Linked DNA regions of Homo sapiens: all the other regions are linked to region 1. Evidence: fine-mapped expression QTL. A gene starts in region 1. Each other region holds a variant in brackets. All regions are shown on one strand. Distances are from middle to middle. Region 1 holds the start of SP100 (SP100 nuclear antigen). Region 2 overlaps SP100 (SP100 nuclear antigen). Region 3 overlaps SP100 (SP100 nuclear antigen). Region 4 overlaps SP100 (SP100 nuclear antigen).

What was found. PIP is the estimated chance that this variant, and not a neighbour inherited with it, causes the effect.
Region 2: its variant is fine-mapped to the expression of SP100 in whole blood (TOPMed, PIP above 0.99).
Region 3: its variant is fine-mapped to the expression of SP100 in whole blood (TOPMed, PIP above 0.99).
Region 4: its variant is fine-mapped to the expression of SP100 in whole blood (TOPMed, PIP above 0.99).

The regions. Positions count from the first base shown.
Region 1 is chr2:230,413,391-230,418,654 of GRCh38, forward strand. SP100 (SP100 nuclear antigen) reads left to right here and starts at 2,811. Exons shown (of 29, transcript NM_001080391.2): 1 at 2,811-2,938; 2 at 4,201-4,275. The coding sequence starts at 2,907. RefSeq lists an enhancer at 2,458-2,977.
Region 2 is chr2:230,455,553-230,460,552 of GRCh38, forward strand. All of the region lies in intron 8 of SP100 (SP100 nuclear antigen), which reads left to right. All of the region lies in intron 3 of LOC101928816 (a long non-coding RNA gene), which reads right to left. Among named protein-coding and RNA genes, the nearest start is that of SP100, 42 kb to the left of the region's middle. The variant A/G (reference allele first, on the strand shown) is at 2,056.
Region 3 is chr2:230,533,393-230,538,392 of GRCh38, forward strand. The region is part of intron 24 of SP100 (SP100 nuclear antigen); the gene reads left to right. Among named protein-coding and RNA genes, the nearest start is that of SP100, 120 kb to the left of the region's middle. The variant C/T (reference allele first, on the strand shown) is at 2,876.
Region 4 is chr2:230,471,331-230,476,330 of GRCh38, forward strand. It overlaps SP100 (SP100 nuclear antigen), which reads left to right. Exons shown (of 29, transcript NM_001080391.2): 16 at 1,994-2,110; 17 at 3,064-3,117. All of the region lies in intron 3 of LOC101928816 (a long non-coding RNA gene), which reads right to left. Among named protein-coding and RNA genes, the nearest start is that of SP100, 58 kb to the left of the region's middle. The variant G/A (reference allele first, on the strand shown) is at 2,111.

The DNA of each region.
Region 1 (5,264 bases):
GAATGAAGCAACAAAAGAACGAAAGCAGGGATTTATTGAAAATAGAAGTACACTCCACAGTGTGGGAGCAGGCCCAAGCAGTATTCAACGGTCCCGCATACAGAATCTTCTCTGGTCCAAATACCCCCTGGAGGTTTCCCATTGACCACTTGGTGCTCACCTCATGTAAATGAAGTGGCGGCCTGCAATCAGTCTGATTGGTTGAGGAAAGCAACCAACCAGAGGCTGAAGTGAAGTTACAAAGGTCACACTCCTGTGCAAACATCTCATTGGTTGCAGAAAGCAACCAATCAGAGGCTAAAGTGAAATTACAAAGTTGTACTTCTATGCAAAGGAAGACTTGGCCTGCAATCAGTCTGATTGGTTGCAGACAGCAACCCATCAGAGGCTGAAGTAAAGTTACAAAGTTACACTCCTATGCAAAAAACAACTATACACAGGTACTTTCCATTTCCCATTGCCCCACAGAAAAGGTGGGGGTTTGCAAAGGGAGTAGCCTCTGGACCTTTTGTTACTTAGGCATGGAAAGTTAGGGTTTTCCTTTCAATTTAGTTCTAGGAAGTTAGCATGAAATGGCCTTAGGTTCCCTGCCTCCAGACCCTATTCTCCTGCCTCACCCACACCACTGAAGTCTGAACTGAAGCTGCTCTTGGTGAAATGTAAGAGGCCCATCATCTGGCTGGGTGCCCTGCCTGTGGTCCTTCCTCAATCACTGCCTCCCCTGCTTTTGAGTTTTCCAGGCTCCAGTAACTGGAACTACTTCTTGACAACAGAAATATTCCCTATTGCCTGTGCTCCTTGCAGCCATGGAAAATGCCCCAGGAGTTCCATTATTTCCTTCTAAACAGTCCAGCAGGATTTTTAGCTCACATGTCTTCTTAATGTGGTCCCGTCCCTTTCCCAACCCCAGTGTGTCTGACATTGTTTTCTGGATCAGAGAAACTTTGCTTTCTTCACAGAGGCCTACAGATTCTCCATATACCAGCGGAGCATGGTGCATGCTCATCTGTCTCCAACCTCATCTGATGAGAACATCTCCTTCCCTGCTGCCAGGAGGTGCCCCAGCATGGGCATGTCTGCCCGTGAAGTTCAACCCGTAAGGAATTCCCTGCCAGCCTGTGGCTCATTGGTCTGGAATTCCAGGTGCTGCTCTTAGTAGCCCCTAAGCACATCCAGGGAAAAGCTGGCACGTTTATGTCAGTGCCACTCAATGGCCTGAGCCTGCCTGCTGCCCAGAGGCAGCGAGAGGGGAGAACGTGAACCACACCAAAGCATACTGTGTGGTCCATGCCAGGACTTCTTGGGACCAATGTGCCTCATGGAGACTGGGATCAAAGGACAGCTGTGCCCAAAAGAGGCTCAGCTTACCAGCCCTTCAGCCCCATAAAGTCGGGGAGTCATGGGGGGTAGGAAGAATGAGAGAAAGAGAGAGAGACCTACAGGTGAGAGAAAGAGAGAGAGACCTACAGGTGTGCAGTGCCTGATAGAAACAGTGACCTTCGCCCACCGGCAAAGCTGTCCTCACCAATGTCCTGGTGCCTGGTCATTCACTCATGGGGAAAAGAAGAGCAGAAGTAGAGTGAGGGTAGAAAGCCCCTTCCCCCACATTTTCAAATGTACCTGGACAAGCATCCTTATTCACAGCTGGAAGAAGTTGGATTCAGTAGAATGCCATTTGGAAAACACCGTTCTGAAGTGCCATCCCCTCTGGCCCCTGAATCCTCACCAGCTTCCACCCTCTGCTCACCTTGGGCCCTGGATTCCAGCGCCCCCAGGCTCCCAGCTGCCTCCCTGTCTCTGCCCCATGGTCCGGCCTGGAGTTCTGGTCCCTGGTTGTGTCCTGTGGCCCCATTCTCATGCGCCCTTTGCTTCTGTTTCTTTACCTATGACTTTATACTGATGTAAAGCGAGTCTTCTCGGTCGCTTCTTGTTCTCTGAGGAATGATGAATCAGAATCTAAATGGAAAATCTGGGCAGAGATAGAACCTCCCGCGGGAGCCACCCTGCCCTTCCATGTCTAGATCATCTGGGTTCCAACCTCCATCCTCCTCCAATGAGAAGCTTTTGTTCTCTCAAGATTCCAGTGACTTCTCCGAAGCTTAGGTGTCTCTTCACCCCTGGCTGTTCCAAGGCGGCCCCATAGTCAAGATTCCTTAAACCCTTGCCCCTTAAAATGTTTGCCTTTCTTACCATGCTGGCTCCAGCCTCTGGTCCCAGGGGTGTGGAGAGTTCTCTCTTACTTCTGGCTGATTTCCAGGAAGGCTAAGCACACTCTCCCCAGGTTATAATGCTGAGCATTTTGGTTCTCTCCAGCCCTGGGTCCCAATGTCAGGACCTACCTTAGTCCAGTCCATGCTCTCCCATGGGCCTGAGAGAAGATTTGAGGTTTCTGGCTTTCCCTCCAACCCTCCAACTCCCACCCCAAGCCATGTCAGCAAGGGGAAGGGGCAAACATGGAGTTTCCCCCCCAACTCCCATGTAAACTATGCCCCCTCTTAGAGGGCAGAGCAGCTAAGGACAATTTTGTTTCAAGGACATTTTTTTTGGCTGTGTATTGCACAAACAAGTGGACACCCGGGAGCTGGCCCTGCTCGTCCCCTGGGCCCTCCTTCCCTGGTCCTGCAGGTCTTGCTGCTTGTCAGGCCTCTCCTCCAACCCTCTGCCACATTTCAGAAAAGCTGAGAATCCCTTGGAGTGAAAAAGGAGGAGAAACACAGTGTCCGTAGCCCAGAAGGAGGTTAAATACTTTCACTTCTCTTTTCCCCATTTGGGCGGAGCCCTTTCTGAGTCAGTCTGTCGGCCGACTTCCTGCTTGGGGCCTGGGCAGCCACACTGCACGCAGGCTGGGCCGACTGAGGGGCTCAGAGGCCAGGCTCTGAGGCCCACGCAGGGCCTAGGGTGGGAAGATGGCAGGTGGGGGCGGCGACCTGAGCACCAGGTGAGTCTTTATCTCCCTTCCTTTAACCTTTATCTCTGGCTATATTGCAGCTTTCATGCCTTTAGTTCAGTTTGTGCCTAAGGCTTCACTTTAATCCTTCTTTGCAAGAACATAGGTATGCGATGTTATATAATGAAATGAAAGACAAGTAATGAGGAAATCAGATTTTTTAAACAGGAGCAGGACAGCTGTTGGTGTGAGTTCAACTTGCCATAACACACGTGACTTTCTTGTTTTGGATTTACTGCTCAGCTGACCGGGACACTCTAAACATAGCAGTTGTTGGTGGCTGGGATTAACTATTTCCTCATGATCTGTGAACCCTTTCACCCCTCAGCCTTCCTCTACCTTCAAATATGTCATGTCAAAAAAGGTGCTTTAGAAAATAAACACTCCAGGGTAAACACCTGGCTTACTTTTAAACATCAGACGCTGTGGTCTCACCTGTCCTGGCAAGGGGCCTCTGCCGGCTGTTCCCATGACTGGCTCAGGGTCTGAGTTCTTATTCCATCAACCTTGATCAAAAGAAGGAAAGGGAAGAAAAAGGCCCAGGGTGACAAACGGCTAAATATTTTCATTTTTACCTCAATTTCCTGTCCCAAGATGGGGGATACCTCTGACCAGAAAAGAGAAGGAAATCCTAACTTTTCTCTAGTAGTGAGTTGAGAAATAACATTACTTAATCTTTTAAATTTTTTAATACAAAAGAAATACACTGTACATTATTGTTCATAAAATTTAAAACAGTGGAGAAGTATATTAAGGAAAAAGTCATCTTTGCCACTCAGCCATTCTTGTAGCTTCTCTTCCCAGTCCTGTGAAGAGTCTTGGGCACAGCTTTTCTTATATTTTTCTATGCATTTATATATCTAATGCATTTTTTGTAAATACGTAATTTATGTTCTTGATTTATAATAAATTATATTACATGTGCTAGTCTGCATTTTGCATTTTTACTTATTTTAATAGTGGAAAACTTAGAGATCTTTTAACCTTAATACATATAGATCTGCCTCATTCTTTTTATACATGCTATTCCATAGAATTGATATATGATAATTATTTATTCTCCAATTGAAGGACATTTAGATTGTTTTTAAATTGTTCACATTTACCAATAAGCTATCATAACAATGATTATATATTTCTTTTTGGGTTTTTACATCTAAACAAATATTTATCTTGTCTCTAAACCTTAAAAATGTAATTATTGAGGCAAAGGGTCCAGTTATTTACTTGGTCCTGCCAAATTGTCTTTCTAGGAGGCTGAATGAATGTATTTCACCAGTAGCAAATGAGATGAACCATCTTCCTGCACACAGCCACGATTTGCAAAGGTGATGAATGAAGAGTTATGTCTTGTTTTAATTTGTATTTTCCTTACGATGGGAAAATTGATCAGCTTTTCATGTTTCTTGGCCATTTAAATTCCCTCTTCTATAAATTGCTTGTTTGTTTTTTGCCAATATGATTCCGTTGAGGTGTTTGTCCTTTTTTTCGTGATATGGGAGAATTCACTAAATATTCTGTAAGTATAAATATACTTTTCTTGTCCATTACCTTTGTCTATGGTGACTTTTATCTTATTAAAGCTTAAAACTTAACATATAGGCCTCTTGTGATACAGATTTTTTTAAGATAGATGCACCCTTGTTATAAACGAGGTGATGCTGACACCCTCTGTGAGCACTCTTAGTTTTTACAATTATTTCTGTGTTAAGGTGGCAGATTCGCTGCTACCGCTATTCCAGGAAGAGTTCCTCCTCTAATATCTCTGAAAATTTTTTAAATTTTTAAACAAAAATATTCTTACATTGGAGCCACTTTAGCCTTCACAGCTTTTATTTGCCCCGTTTTCATCTTTTCAGTCTTTCACTTTGTGTTCATAATAGTTGTCTCAAACTTTTCCTCCATGACAATTATTTACCTTCTAGTAGGTTTCTTGTTTCTTGTCATTTCTAATTTTTTAAAAATTGATAGTGTTTATTTTTGAGGAGGGATCTTAATTGGTTTCTGTACGCCTGCAAGCTCCATAACCTCTTGTCATTCAGTCTTCACAGTCTTGCTTTATTTAGGTTTGCCTGTGCTGTTAAGAACTTTGGGATATTCTCCTTGTTGTCTCTTAGTTATTTTTCCAGACTGATTCTGTCTGATCTTGTGTTCCACGTGCCTGTGGTGGCTTTACAGCTCCTCTAGCCAGGCTTGGCCAGGGCAGGTCACCCCAAACTTCCCGTTTGCTTAGTCATAATCTGGATGAACTTTTTTTCTTTTTTTTTTTAACATTCCCTGTTTTATCTGAGATCAAATTGTTTTTTGTCTGAGCTAC
Region 2 (5,000 bases), 42 kb after region 1:
CATGATTTTTAAATTCATTCAGCCACTCTATGTCTTTTGATTGGAGAATTTAATTTATTTACACTTAATATAATTACTGATAGGTAAGTACTTTCTAAAACCATTTTGTTTATTGTTTTCTGGTTGTCTGTAGATTCTTTATTCCTTTCTTTCTCTCTTACTGTCTTCCTTTGTGATTAGGTGATTTTCTCTAGTGATACACTTTGATTCCTCTTTATCTTTTGTGTAATCACTGTAAGTTTTTGCTTTGTGGTTAACATGAAGTTTACACAAAACATCTTATAACAGGCTATTTTAAGCTGATAACAACTTAATTTTGATTGCCTACAAAAACTGCACTTTTACTTTGCTCCCTCATTTAAAATGTTTGATGTCAGAGTTTACAAGTTTTATATAGTGTATACTCTAAAAAATTATTGTAGCTACTATTTTTTGACTATATATTTACTTTACCAGTTAGTTTTATACTTTCTTATATTTTTATATTATTAGTTAGCATTTACTTCTTTCAGCTTGAGCATTTCTTGTAAGACAGGTCTGGTGGTAATGAATGTATTCATCTTTTGTTTTCCCGGGACGGTCTTTATCTCTCCTTTATTTCTGAAAGACAGCTTTGCCAAGAAAAGTATTCTTGGTTGTCAGGTTTCTTTTTCTTCCTTTGGCACTTTGAATGTTTCATCTCATTCTCTCCTTATCTGTAAGGTTTGTGCTAAAAAGTCCACTGTTGTCCTTATTAAAACTCCCTCATATGTTAGTTGCTTCTTTTCTTTTGTTGCTTTCAGGATTCTCTCTTTGTCCTTGAATCTTGACAGCTTGATTATAGTATGTTTTGGTGTAGTCGTGTTTGCACTGAATCTGATTGGAGACCATTGACCTTCTTGTACCTGGAAATTTATGTCTTTCACCAGATTGGCAAAGCTTTATACTATTATCTCTTTAAATTAACTTTCTACTTTTGTCTTTCTCTTCCCTTTTATGAATTCCTGTGATTCAAATATTTGCTCTTTTGGTGTGTTTCATAAATCCTGTAAGCTTTCTTCATGACTTTTCATTCTCTTTTCTTTTTCTTCTCTGATTGTATTTCAAATAACCTGTCTTTGAGTTCATATTCTTTCTTCTGCATGATCAATTCTGCTGTTGATGCTCTCTGATGCCTTTTTAAATTTCATTCATTGTATTTTTCAGCTCCAGAATTTGTTTGATTTTTTAAATAATTTCAATATCTCTGTTAAACTTTCTCATTTTGGTCATTTATTGTCTCCCTAATTTTAGTGAATTGTTTCCTATATTTTCTTAAGGTTTGCTGAGATTCCTTAAAACAATTATTTTGAATTCTGCATAAGGCAGTTTGTTATCTCCATTACTTTGGGGTCTGCTATGGGGAGATTATTGTGTTCTTTTGGTCATGTTGTGTCTCTTTGGTTTTTATGTTTCTTGTTGCCTTACATTTATGTCTGTACATTTGAGAAAGTAGAAACTATTCTAGTCTTTGCAGGCTGACTTTGTCTGGGAAAGCCTTTCACCCTATTTAAAGATTCTAAGATGGCCATCTGGCATGGTACAAGGGCAGGCTTGCTGCTAGAGTCCTCAAGCAGGCTAGTCTGGTGCCTAGGACAACCAGTGGGCAGGTCTGTGCTGGGGGAAACCTTGAGCCAGAATCTGCAGGGCTCTACACCACTGATGCAGGCTTCTTCAGGCACTTCAGTAGGCATGAAGCCCAGTGCTATTGAAGCCAGCTTGCTGCTAGGATGGGCCTCAAGCCCAGTGCCACTTGGTCCAGTTTGGCACTCGGTCTGGTCTGGATCATGGGTTCACTGAGGCTGAAATAGTGCTGTAGGAGGCTGAAGACTGAGTTCGCAGGGCTGGCCTGAGTCCTGGGGCTGCAGGATTTAGGTTGGGGTCAGAGTGAGCTTGGAGGTTCAGACCATGGGTACTGGCTAGAGTCTGGGGCTTTGGGAGCTGGGTTTTACTGAAGTCGGTTCTGTGGTTTGGGTGTAAGGCAAAGTCTGGTGCTCACTTCCTTCTCCTTTCCCCAAGCATATTGTATCTTGCTCA[A/G]TGCTGTGCTTCCTGGAGTTGGGGAAGATGACACAGTGAAACTTTTCTTCCTGCCCTTTTCAATGTGCTCTTTCTTATTTCTGTGTTTCACTCAGGTGCTGTGATCTTTCATCTGGTTTCCTCAGCTCTTGCAAAGGTATTTTCATGCATAGGTCGTTGTTCACATCAGTGTTTCTGCAGGGGATGGAGGGCTGGAGAGTCCTATTCTCCCATCTTGCTCTACTTCTCCCCAATTTTCTAATTATATCTTTATTTTTCTATAAGGGCAAAACTTCCCTTTGTTTTCTCATACTAACTGCCTACACTCATCCAAGACACACAGACTTTGTTCACAGCCTCTGGCTGCTTTTAACAGGTATGAGATGGAAGGGAAAAAGAGAGTGAGTCTTTTTAACAGAGGGACTGTCCCTGGTTAGAGAATGCAAGAAGAAAGAATACAAAAGAGGTCAACTAGGGAATATTAAATAACAAAACACAGTTGACCCCTGGACACTGTGGGAGGTTAGGGGTACCAATGCCCCATGCAGTCAAACATTTGCACATAACTTTTACATTCCCCAAAACTTAACAACTGCTGTTGACCAGAAGCCTTACTGATAACATAAACAGATGATAACACATATTTTCCATACGTATTATGTGCTGTATTCTCACAATGAAGTAAGATCTCCAAAGGAAAATGTTATTAATACAATCATAAGGAAGAGAAAATATATTTACTATTCATTAAGTGGCAATAGGTAATCATAAAGACCTTCATCCTCATCATTGAGTAGTTTGAGAAGGAGGAAGGAGAGGAGGGGTTGGCCTTGCTGTCTGAGGGGTGGCAGAGGTGGAAGAAAATCTGCATACAAGTGGACTCATGTAGTTCAAGCCCCTGTTGTTGAAGGGTCAACTGTGTATGAGTGAGACAGATTTTAGATAAAGTGACATGGTATCCATACATTGTCATGTTGTGGAGTTGTTGAATAGAAATATGTTGCAAGTTACTTTTCAGAAGTTATCATGAAAACGTAGAAATTATGCATGATGCTGCTTGTCAGATTTGCAAAGGAAGGAAGCCCAGGTGAAAGACCTTCAGGAAGGAATGGCAAGTGGAGGGCCTCTGGTGTGGTAGACAATGGCACTGGAAGAGACCTTTCGTAATGATGGGAATGTTTGAGATGAGGAAGATATAGAAAGACAAAAAGTGATATAGCACTCACACATCAGATGCGAAAGTATTTTTGAAAAAAAAGTGACATAGAAGAAGCTTGCAGAGGTAACGTTAATAATTAAGAAATAAGGGCCGACTCAAAGCAGGTAGGAAATGTAACAGAGATGCAACATTACATATGGGACAACAGGCCTGGCACGAGGTGAGGCAGGGAGGCCCCCAGGGCACAGCATGTAAGGAGACCTCACTTGGCATGTGAGACTGAGCTTCCTTAAATTTCAAGGCACCCCATAGCACCACCTTCACCTCACCCTGGTTCTGTCTCTAAGAGACAATAATTTTTAAAAAGTGTAGATAAAAAGACTATGAATAGAAAAAACATAGAGGGAAATAAATACCAAGAAATAGGAAAAATGGAGGGAGGCACAAAGAGAAGTATGCAGAAAATGAGTTAAAGGACAATGAATGAAAAATTGGTAGAGAGTGGATCATGCAAAGAAGGGAAGAGAGAAGACAAATCAAGACATTCTCTGATCTGAGGAGATAAGAGCTAGAAAGGAGGCACAGGGTGTCCTATTACTATGGAGAAAGATCAGCTGCCCTCTTATCAAAATGGCCCCTGTGACTCCACCTCCACCCCCAGATTACAATAAGCCTCTCCTCAGGCATCACTTCCTCTCCATGGCTCAATCACCATCTAAGATCTGTTGATTTCTAAACATACATCTCCAGCTCAGACCTGTCCTGTTGACTCCCTTCCCCAATTGCCTGAAGACCTTTATTTAAAGACCTGAAGAACATCTCTCTTTGGAAGCTGCATCTGTCATCTATTGCTGTGTCATGTAACAAACTATCCTGAAACTTAGTGGCTTAAAACAATCATCATTTCATTTGCCACTTGTGTCAATCCCAACTTTAAAATATCTCTAACTTGTCCATTTCTCTTCATCCCCAGCACGAACACCCTAATCTAGACCCCTGTCACTCTCACTAAAATTAGAGGAACAGTCTCCTGTCTGGCCCCCAGTCTTGCTCCTCTCAAGTCTGCACTTCAGTTGAATGGACTTTTCCAAAATAGAAACCAGTTGATATGACTTTCCTGTTTGAAACCCAGTGCCTTCGTGTGGCCCTTAGCAGTAGATCAACACTGCTTGGAGTGGTGAATTGAAGGATGTCTACCACGCACCTGCGCGTTCCCCGTCACCCACCTCTCGCCCTTTCATGCCACATTCCCACCACACTAAGCTTCCTTTACTTACTGGAATTTGCCAAGCTCTCTTTCTTTCATCTCTGCCTTTATATATGCTTTTGGGAAAACAGTTTGGGGTAATCTTCCAAAGGTGAAAATATACATACCCTATAACCCAACAATTATATTCCTCAGCAGAAACCAACAGAAATGTGTGTTATGTCACCAAAACACATAGAAAAGAATGCTCAAGGCAGCATTATTCATAGAAGCCAAATGCTTGAAATTGTACAAATGAATAAATAATTCATGGCTTATTTCTATAATGGAATACTATCTAGTAGTGAAAATAATTATACAAAACGAATACAGATGACTTTCACAAGCATGTTGAGTAAAATATCCATACAATTTTGGGGGATTTGGCTTCTTTTGGGAGATCTATATATATTGAGAGAGAGGTAAAGGGAGAAAGAAAGAGTGGAGAGAAAAGAGATTATTCCATTTTTATAAATTACACAACAAGCAAAATTAACCTTAGTGTTGGAAACCTCAATGGTAGTTGTCTTTGAGCAAGTTAGTGGAAACAGTTAATGGGAA
Region 3 (5,000 bases), 120 kb after region 1:
TAGGAAGTAATAACTACTGGACACTAAATCACAGTGTTTGTGACATGTCACAGAAAATGATAGGACTTTCTGCAGCATAAATGTCCTCTTAACCAATCCTTGTGCTGTTAAGTTACAGGGCTTTAACTTCTGGGTCTGAAAAAGGCACCTACTTCTGCTAAATCTTGAACATTACCCTAGTTTAAGCCTCATCTTCAGACCTGGGAGAAAATGACAGTCAAAATGAACTGCTTTCATGAGACACTGGGCCAGAAATTAAAACTATTCAATCTGTCTAGGCCAAGGGACTGTCATGGCAGATGTGGACATGTGAGATTTGAGGGTTTTCTATAAATTAAATATTAATATCAAAAGCACACTGATTCAAGGCCAGAGTCTAGGCCCATGTGTCAGAATAACAGCATTTTCCTGGAGCATTAATCGGCTCTTTAATAGAAGATTGTAAAAGGTTTATGGAGATCTTACTCTACAAACAAACTGATAAAATTAAAATTGTTTATAAGGTTTTAAAAATTACTTTTAATATTAGTAATACACTATACAAAGGTGAAATTTGGTTTTCTCTTTTGAACAAAATTTTCATATGAGAGCTAATGAAATATTTTTATTTACCTTTTGAATAACTACAGGGTGCAAAAAAAGGAGGAAAAAGACATTTAGGTGGCCTCATGCTGTCTTTATTAGGTTTCATTGTTTGGGAAACTGAGTCTACTCCCTAGAAAAGGGTAAATGTCAGCGGGTGCGGTGGCTCACGCCTGTAATCCCAGCACTTTGGGAGGCTGAGGTGGGTGGATCAGGAGGTCAGGAGATTGAGACCATCCTGGCTAACATGGTGAAACTCCATCTCTACTGAAATACAAAAAATTAGCCGGGCGTGGTGGTGGGCACCTGTAGTCCCAGCTACTCGGGAGGCTGAGGCAGGAGAATGGCATGAACCCAGGAGGCGGAGGTTGCAGTGAGCTGAGATTGCACCAGTGCATTCCAGCCTGGGTGACAGAGCGAGACTCCGTCTCAAAAAAAAGAGAAGTCTTAGCTAAATCAATGACTACTTTACAGTGACCTGTGATCCTATTTTGTAATATCAAATGTCTTAAAACTTTGATATTTGACAGACTTTCCAAGAGTAAAAATTTCAAGTTCTAAATTCGGCCTTTTTGACCTCAAACTAACTTATTTGCACATTAGGTTCCCTGAAGTTCAAGAGAGACATACTAGACTTATTGACTTATTTGTTACATTAGAATTATGCAGAAAGCGTTGTCACATCTGAGGTGGTGGTCAACTTCTTTTGGGTTATATTTATATAGATGTGTTGTTAATATGTGTTCCAGGATTGTATGATTCTTGCATGTTTTAATATATGCCATCAGTAATAATTATGCTTATTATGTTGAATTGTTATATGTCACAGAAATAACCAAATTTCCTCATCAACTGTGTCTTTAACTATGGCTTGCTTAAGAGTTTTGACATCCACTATTGTTATTTTGCATTGATTCTTCTCAAAAAGTAACATATAATCAGCCGGGCATGGTGGCTCACGCCTGTAATCCCAGCACTTTGGGAGGCCAAGACGGGTGGATCACAAGGTCAGGAGTTCGAGACCACCCTGGCCAAGATGGTGAAACCCCGTCTCTACTAAAAATAAAAAAAATTAGCCGGGCATGGTGGCAGGCACCTGTAGTCCCAGCTACTCGGGAGTCTGAGGCAGGAGAATTCCTTGAACCTGGGAGGTGGAGGTTGCAGTGAGCCGAGATTGTGCCACTGCACTCTAGCCTGGGCGACAGAGTGAGACTCCATCTCAAAAAAAAAAAAGTATCTTATAATCAGCTACAGTCCATGGTTTGCTTCTTTGGGGGAGTTCATGAAAAGGACTTTTGAATGTAGGTTTCTGATGACTTTGGAGGTTGTTTCATTAGATTAGAGAGAGAAAACGTCCAAGAAACTAACTGAAAAACTGATACATTCATAAAATTTACTAACCTAATATGAAGCAGAGCAGGAGTTAGTTGCCTACACTGAACAAATGGAGGCCAGAAATAATTTCTTATGGATTTTTTTTGTTTGAAACATTGCTGCCTTTAACAATTGAGAGGAGCATTACTCTTGTAAACTAAGTTTGAGGCATATTTCTCTCTCTCTCTGCCTAATTTCTCCAGAATTCATAAACTATTTGTGAATATTATTAATTCATGGCAATGTGTTTGCGTATGTTTAATAAGAATCTGTTTTCTGCTGGGTGTGTTGGCTCATGCCTGTAATCCTAGCACTTTGGGAGGCCAAGGCAGGTGGATCACTTGAGGTCAGGGGTTTGAGTCCAGCCTGCCAACATGGTGAAACCCCGTCTCTACTAAAAATACAAAAATTAGCCAGGAGTGGTGGTGCATGCCTGTCGTCCCAGCTACTCGGGAGGCTGAGGCAGGAGGATCACTTGAACCTGGGAGGTGGAGGCTGCAGGGAGCCAAGATCATGCCACTCCACTCCAGCCTGGGTGACAGAGCAAGACTCCATCTCAAAAAAAAAAAAAAAAAAAAAAAAAAAAAGAATATGTTTTCTTTTATAATGAGACACAGTTGGAGGAACTGGTCATTTTCCCAGGGCTTTGACTGAAATGGCCTTGTGAGAGGTTCCAGCAAAGCCAGTTTAAGATAGCCTACATGGACAATGGTTCTTGCTGCACTTTGTGTGGGCAAATAAGCCAAGTATATGGGACTGAAGCTTATTTGGCAGGTAGGTTGGTCCTGCTGTGATTTGTCTTTAGTGGAAGTGGGAGACTGGAGAGAAAAAGAGTGTGTTTCAGAAGAAACCTATAGTATTCAGTTAACTTTTGATTTTTGGGTGGCTATGTGGGTCACCCATGGTATGGATTTGCCCA[C/T]GACACTCCTCATCAGCATGAAACAGCCAGAAAGATTGACAACCAGTTCCCCATGATTGAGGAATTGATAAACAGAAAAGGGGCACTGAAATGAACCCAATTGTCCCATAAATCTGATTTTTACAGTTTATTTTGAATAAACATAGAAATTGACCCTCTCAGTCTTAAAACTTGAGAGAGTTACATTTGTCTTATCTGAGTTCTTTCTCAGGAAACCAACCGTCAGACCCCCACATAACATCAAGGGACTGAAACTCACCAGATTACTGTATTTGGACAATGAGATGCCAAACTCCTCACCCCTTATGACTGCCTAACCAATAATCTCCTTCCTGTTAACCAATTCCTCCTTACCACTCCCTAATTCCTGCTTCCCTGAATATAGATACATTTCTGCTATATAAACCCCTAACTTTAGTGAGTCAGGGAGACAGATTTCAGACTGATCTCTCATCCCCTTGGCTGCAGCACCCGACTAAAGCCTTCTTGCTTGGCAATACTCATTGTCTCAGTGATTGGCTTTCTGCGTGGCAAGCAGCAGGACCTAAACTGAACCCCTGGTATTTCAATAACAAAATCATGGGTGACTTCCCTGTCTAAACAAAGTCACATTTTGATTCTTTTCATTGCAATGAGATGAGCATTTTAGGCAGGGTCAGCCTTTTGCACAACTGCAAGGAGCACCTTTTGCTGTAAGAATGCCATGTAAGCTAGGCACAGTGATTCATGCCTGCAATCCTAGCACTTTGGGAGGCTGAGGCAAGAGGATCACTTGAACCCATGAGTTTGAGACCAGCCTGGGCAACATGGCAAAACCCCACCTCCACAAAAAATACCAAAAATTAGTCAGGCATGGTGGGACACACCTGTAGTCCCAGCTACTCCAGGGGCTGAGGTGGTAGGATTACTTAAGTCCAGGAAGTTGAGGCTGCAGTGAGCTGTGATCGCACCACTGCACTCCAGCCGAGGTGACAGAGTGAGACCCTGTCTCAAAACAAAAATGCCATGCAGCTGGACTGGTACAGGACACTAATTGAGAGGGGATAGAAAAGAAGTTGCCATGCCCTCTATTTTCTTAGCCAATGCTCTTCCCTAGCAAGATCTAGATCAATCCACACTGTTTCTGTTTCTTTGCTGGAGGTGAGACCCTTCAGTAGTCAAACAGCTCTCATCTCTGGGGTCTGCATAACTTGTTTGATGACTAAGGGAGACCCATAGGGCCATTTCTTACAGCCCACAGCCAAGCCCTCTGTGAAGAGGAAAAGGCAACTCTTCCAGCAAGGAAGTCCTCACCCCTTTTCAAAAACTTTCCTAGACAAACTTGTAGGCTGTTAATGACTCTAGTTATGACCTCCCAGCCCTTACTCAGGAGAAACCACTTTGTAATGTGGGTTTTCAACCTTGGCTGCACGTTGCAATCACCTGGGGATCCCCCGCAACCGCCTGACAAAGATTCTGATGTTATTGGTCTGAGGTGCTGCCTGAGAATTGGTGTTTCCAAAGCTCCTCTGGTGTTTTGTGTTTTTCTAGCACAAGAAAAGTTGTGAGTCACTGTAGTGCAATACAGTTCGATCACAATTGCCACAATTGTGTAGGGTCCATCAGAACCACCTGAAGGGCTTCATAGACCACAGCTGGCTAGGAGCTACCCCTAGGCTTCTGATTCAGCAAGTGAGAGGCAGAGCCCAAGGCTGTATATTTCTAACAAGTTCCAGGTGCTGCTGCTGCTGGTCCAGAGACCACTGCATTAGAGGCCAGAGTTCTCAACTATTGACTGCACATTAGAACCATCTGGACAATATTTAAGACATACTGATGCCTATACACCAACCCAGACTAACTGAATCAAAATCTCTGGTAATGGGGCTCCAGAGATGTTTTTTAATGCTCCCAGGGGATTCTACTGTAGAGCAAGTTGAGAACCACTTGTAAGCAAAAGAAAAAAATTCTTACTAAAAAGGTTAAAGAGACATACACCAAGTTTGCAGGCTTTCTAGACAATGGAACTTCAAACATAGGATTTGCCTGTGGTATTTATTCTTTCTTGGGGCCCACTTGCAGTGTACTTTATAGGATGATGTATCAGAAACCTTGACCCAGCAGCCTAAAAATAGTGGTCAGCATC
Region 4 (5,000 bases), 58 kb after region 1:
ATTTTTTTGTCAGTCCGTTTAAGCTCTGAAAATAGTTCAGCATGACCACATTGAGACAGGTTCCCTGGTTTCCTCGTCACTGTCTATAGTCTATTATTTCCTTGTTTGTCTTCATTGTCCTGTGAATTTAGAGCTCCTCCAATGAATACACAAAGAGAGTCAGAAGAGATGCAGCCCATTAGCTTGTGATGGAGAAGCCGATTATGATGTTCAGTTCATTATTAATTATCTTTTTTTTCCTACTTGCATGGAGGAAAAGTTCTTTTTTCTTTTCCTTACCTCTCCCCCAAAACATATGCACACACACATACACACCACACACACAAAGACTTGTGCACAGACTCGGGCTGCTTGCGACAGGTTTGAGGGAGCGAAAAGAAAAAGAAGAGCTGGGCTCCTGAATGGAGGGAGGAGACACTGAGTGGATAAAGTAAGGAGAAAGAATGGAGAAAGGTAGGCTAGAGTCACCAAATGAAAAGATATAAGAGTCAGCTTCAAGTTTTTCTAAGTGGACAAGGAATTCAAATATTCCAGGTAGGGGAATTTTGTGGGGGAGGGAGGGATAATTTTCAACACACTTCTCAGAAATTGTACCAGAAACGTGAAAATAAAGTTGCTGATTGATTGACAGCCTTGCAAGGTAGAAAGCTCATAAAGAACAGACAAAGGTAATAGAGATGGCTATGTGGTCAGTGTCCTAACAGCAGGCATTTGGTGATGAAAGTAATAACCTGTGAGATAAAGATGAATATAGATGAAGAAAATGTGGATAAAGACAAAGATTGAAATTGCAAAAAGAGTCAAGATCAAGATAAGGGCCAGGCGCAGTGACTCATGCCTGTAATCCCAGCACTTTGGGAGGCCGAGGTGGGCGGATCACGAGGTCAGGAGATCAAGACCATCCTGGCTAAAACGGTGAAACCCCATCTCTACTAAAAACAAAAAAAATTAGCCAGGCATGGTGGCAGGCAGCTGTAGCTCCAGCTACTCAGGAGGCTGAGGCAGGAGAATGGCGTGAACCTTGGAGGCAGGTCTTGCAGTGAACCAAGATCGCACCACTGCACTCCAGCCTGGGCGATCGAGCAAGACTCCGTCTCAAAAAAAAAAAAAAAAAAAAAAAAAGTCAAGACAAGATTCAGAGAAACAAGCTAGAAGAGAGAATAGAAGGAGGAAGTGATAGTAGAAAGAAGTTCACCTCAATAATAAAACTAGATCTAAAGATATAAACAGAAAAACAGGTGGAATGAGATACATTCAAAGGGTGATGAGTGGTGTAAAAAATTAGGTACAACAAGAAGTATGTAGAGAAAGAATTAAAAGATGAGAGAAAAATGGAGGCAAGAAGGGGGAAGTGTAAATGGGAGAGAAGAGAATGATGGAGAAATTGTAGGATCTGAAATGACCATGAGATAAAAGCAACTTTAGCACAAGGCATGATTCACAATAGCAGTAAGTTTTCAGAATAAGGTGTCCCCTGGCCCCTCTGACTCACCCAGATTAAAAAAGGCCTCACCCAGGCATTTCATCCACTCCTGTGATTTCAGTCACCACCCACAACCTCATGATTCCTACATGTGTATCTCCAGCCAGCCCTGTCTTCTAAACTCATTCATCCAAGTGTCAGAAGGCTCCTGTTGGAGATTCTGAAGGCCTTAGACTTCACCACTTGGATGTTACTCAAGACCTTCAAACTTAACACCTCCAAAACTGAGCACATCATCTTTTTCCCTAAAACCAGCCTTTGCTCCTCCAGTGTTCTTCATCACTGAAACAAACTATTAATTGACCCTTTATTTCAAGATGAAATTCTCAGGGTTATTTATGAACAGAAGGGAAAAATACAGTGAGGAACCACAAAAGAAAAAGAGATTTCAGATGTAGAGCCCATCCCTTAATTTAGCTGTGGGGAGTGGGCAGTCACTAATGTTGGGGGGAAGGAGAATCTTTGAAGGGGAGTGGGCACAAATAAAAATGTTTACAAATCACAATTTAGGATCACAGCCACAAGAACCTGAAAATAAGAAGTGCTCCTGTGTCATGTGTTTTCCAAAAGGTGTGCCAAGAAGCCAAGAAGCAAGGACTGAAAGTAGTCAAGCATCTGACATGATGG[G/A]TAAGGCTACCCTAGGGTCTTGGGATGGAAGTGGCTCAGTGGATATCACAGACACTGGGTAGGGATGTGGGAAGTGATCAGAGTTGAAGCAAAGCATGAAACAGCCTCTGGATCACCAACAGGAAGTGGGCCCACAGGCCCCAAGCTTCAGAATTTCAAAAGTCTGAAATCATAGTCCCGGTTTCCTGCTGCACTTGACTGTGAGCAGACTGTGACAAAGAACAGGTTTGGTGCCGCCAGAATCCTGTTCTCTACATTTGCTTAACCCGACCCTTTTGGGAACTGCAGGGAGGCAAGAGATCATTATAAAGCCATATTTAACAGAATGGGCTCTCTTGGTTAGGTGGTAAAAAAATACACTGGTAAACATAGTAGTATCTCACTATATTAGCATATCAATAGTAAAGTGTTGAATTTATAAAGCGAGTTCCATCCTTGTTCTTGAAAAAAAAAAAAAGAAAACATGTTCTTCCACTCACAGGTAATAGTGTCATTTTGTCACAACTTTGGAAAGGCCTAAAAAGACAAATAGTCCTGCTACCTGTCAGGAAAGAAAAATCAGATACCTACTCTTATGCTAAAAATACATTGTTTTGAAAGATATCCTCTGGACTGTTATTGATTTATATAGTGATTTCCTATTAACTCTTGCAAGTAAGATATTTAATATTCATAAAAATTTTAAAGCTGAACAGGATAACCGTTGCTGTCCCTGTTTCATAAATGAGGAAATTGGTGCATAAAAGTAATGAAGAGCTGTTTCAAAGTCTCAGAGAACTAGACGAAGACCTTAGACATCAATTCAGTGTCTGTTTCCTTTGGAAGGAAGACAGATAAATTATACTCAGAATATTGTTATAAACGCAAGCCTTCCATGCAGTGTGAATTGTCATAAGATTTATAAATTTTACTTATAAATTACAGTTCTCTGACCACTACCTGTCACTTTCTAGATACCATGGATGTTGAAAACAATTCTACTTTGGAAAAACACAGTGGGAAAAGAAGTAAGAACAAATAAGAATTTACTTAATTTTTATGTTACAAATGAACTATTTTTTAATGCTAAGGTTTATTATCATCATTTTCTTTTTTCAACTTTTATTATAGATTAAAGGGTGCATTTGCAGGTTTGTTACATGGGTAAATTGTGTGATGCTGAGGCTTGGTGTCCCAAAAATCCCATCACCCAGGCAGTAAGCATAGTACCCAACAGATGGTTCTTCAGCCCATGCCACCCTCTCCCCCTGCCCCATCTAGTGGTCCCCAGTGTCTCTTGTTCTCATCTTCACATTTATGTGTATTCGATGTTTAGCTTCCACTTGTAAGTAAGAACATGCAGTATTTGGTTTTCTGTTCTTGCATTAAGTTGCTTAGGATAATGGCCTCCGCTCCATCCATGTTGCTGCGAAGGGTGTGATTTCATTCTTTTTATGGCTGCATAGTATTTCATGGTGTATATGTGTGCCACATTTTCTTTATCCAATTCACTGTTGATGGGCAACTAGATTGGTTCCGTGTCTTTGCTTTTGTGAATAGCACTATAAGGAACATATGAGTGCGTGTATCTTTTTGATAGAACAAGTTATTTTCCTTTGGGTATATACCTAAAGGTAGTGGGATTGCTGGGTAGAATGGCATTTCTGTCTTTAAGTCTTTGAGGAATTGCCACACTGTCTTCCACAATGGTTGAACTAATTTTACCCTCCCACCAACAGTGTATGAGCATTCCTTTTCCTCCACAACCTCACCAGCATCTGTTATTTTCTTGACTTTTTAATAATAGCCACTCTGAGTAGTGTGAGATGGTATCTCACTGTGATTCTGATTTGCATTTATCTGATGATTAGTAATGTTGGGCATTTTTTTCATGTTTGTTGACCACTTGTATGTCTTCTTTTGAGAAGTGTCTGTTCATGTCCTTTGCCCATTTTTTAATTGGATTTTGTTTTTTGCTTGTTGATTTGTTTAAGTTCCTTGTAGATTCTGGATATCAGACCTTCGTTATATGCACAGTTTGCAAAAATTTTCTCCCATTCTGAAGGCTGTCTGTTTACTCTTTTGGTAATTTCTTTTGTTGTACAGAAGCTATTTAGTTTAACTGGGTCCCACTTGTCAGTTTTTGTTTGAGTTGCAATTGCTTTTGGAGACTTAGCCATAAATTCTTTGCCAAAGCCTATGTCAGGAAGGGTATTTCCTAGGTTTATTCTAGGATTTTTATAGTTTTAGGTCTTACATTTAAATCTTTAATCCATCTTGAGTTAATTTTTGTATAGGATGAGAAGTATGGGTCCAGTTTCGTTTTTCTTCGTATGTCTAGCCAGTTATTCCAGCATCATTTATTGAATAGACAGTCCATTTCCCATTGCTTATTTTTGTTGATTTTGTTGAAGATCAGATGGTTGTAAGTGAGCAGGTTTGTTTCTGAGTTCTCTGTTCTGTTCCACTGGTCTATGTGTCTGTTTTTGTACCAGTACCATGCCATTTTGATTACTGTAGCCTTATAGTATAGTTAGAAGTTGGGCAACGCGATGCCTCTAGCTTTGTTCTTTTTGTTTACAATTGCTTTGGCTATTCAGGCTCTTTTATGGTTCCAACTGAGTTTTAGAATAGATTTTTCTAATTCTGTGAAAAATGACGCTTTTATTTTAATAAGGATGGTGTTGAATCTATAAATTGATTTAAACAGTATAGTCATTCAAACTGTATTGATTCTTCCAATCCATGAGCATGGAATAATTTTCTATTTATTTGTGCTATCTCTGATTTCTTTCAGCAGTGTTTTGTACTTCTTCTTGTAGATATCTTTCACCTCCTTGGCTGGATGAATTCCTAGGGATCTCATTTTCTTTATGGCTATTGTAAATGGGACTGTGTTCTTCATTTGATT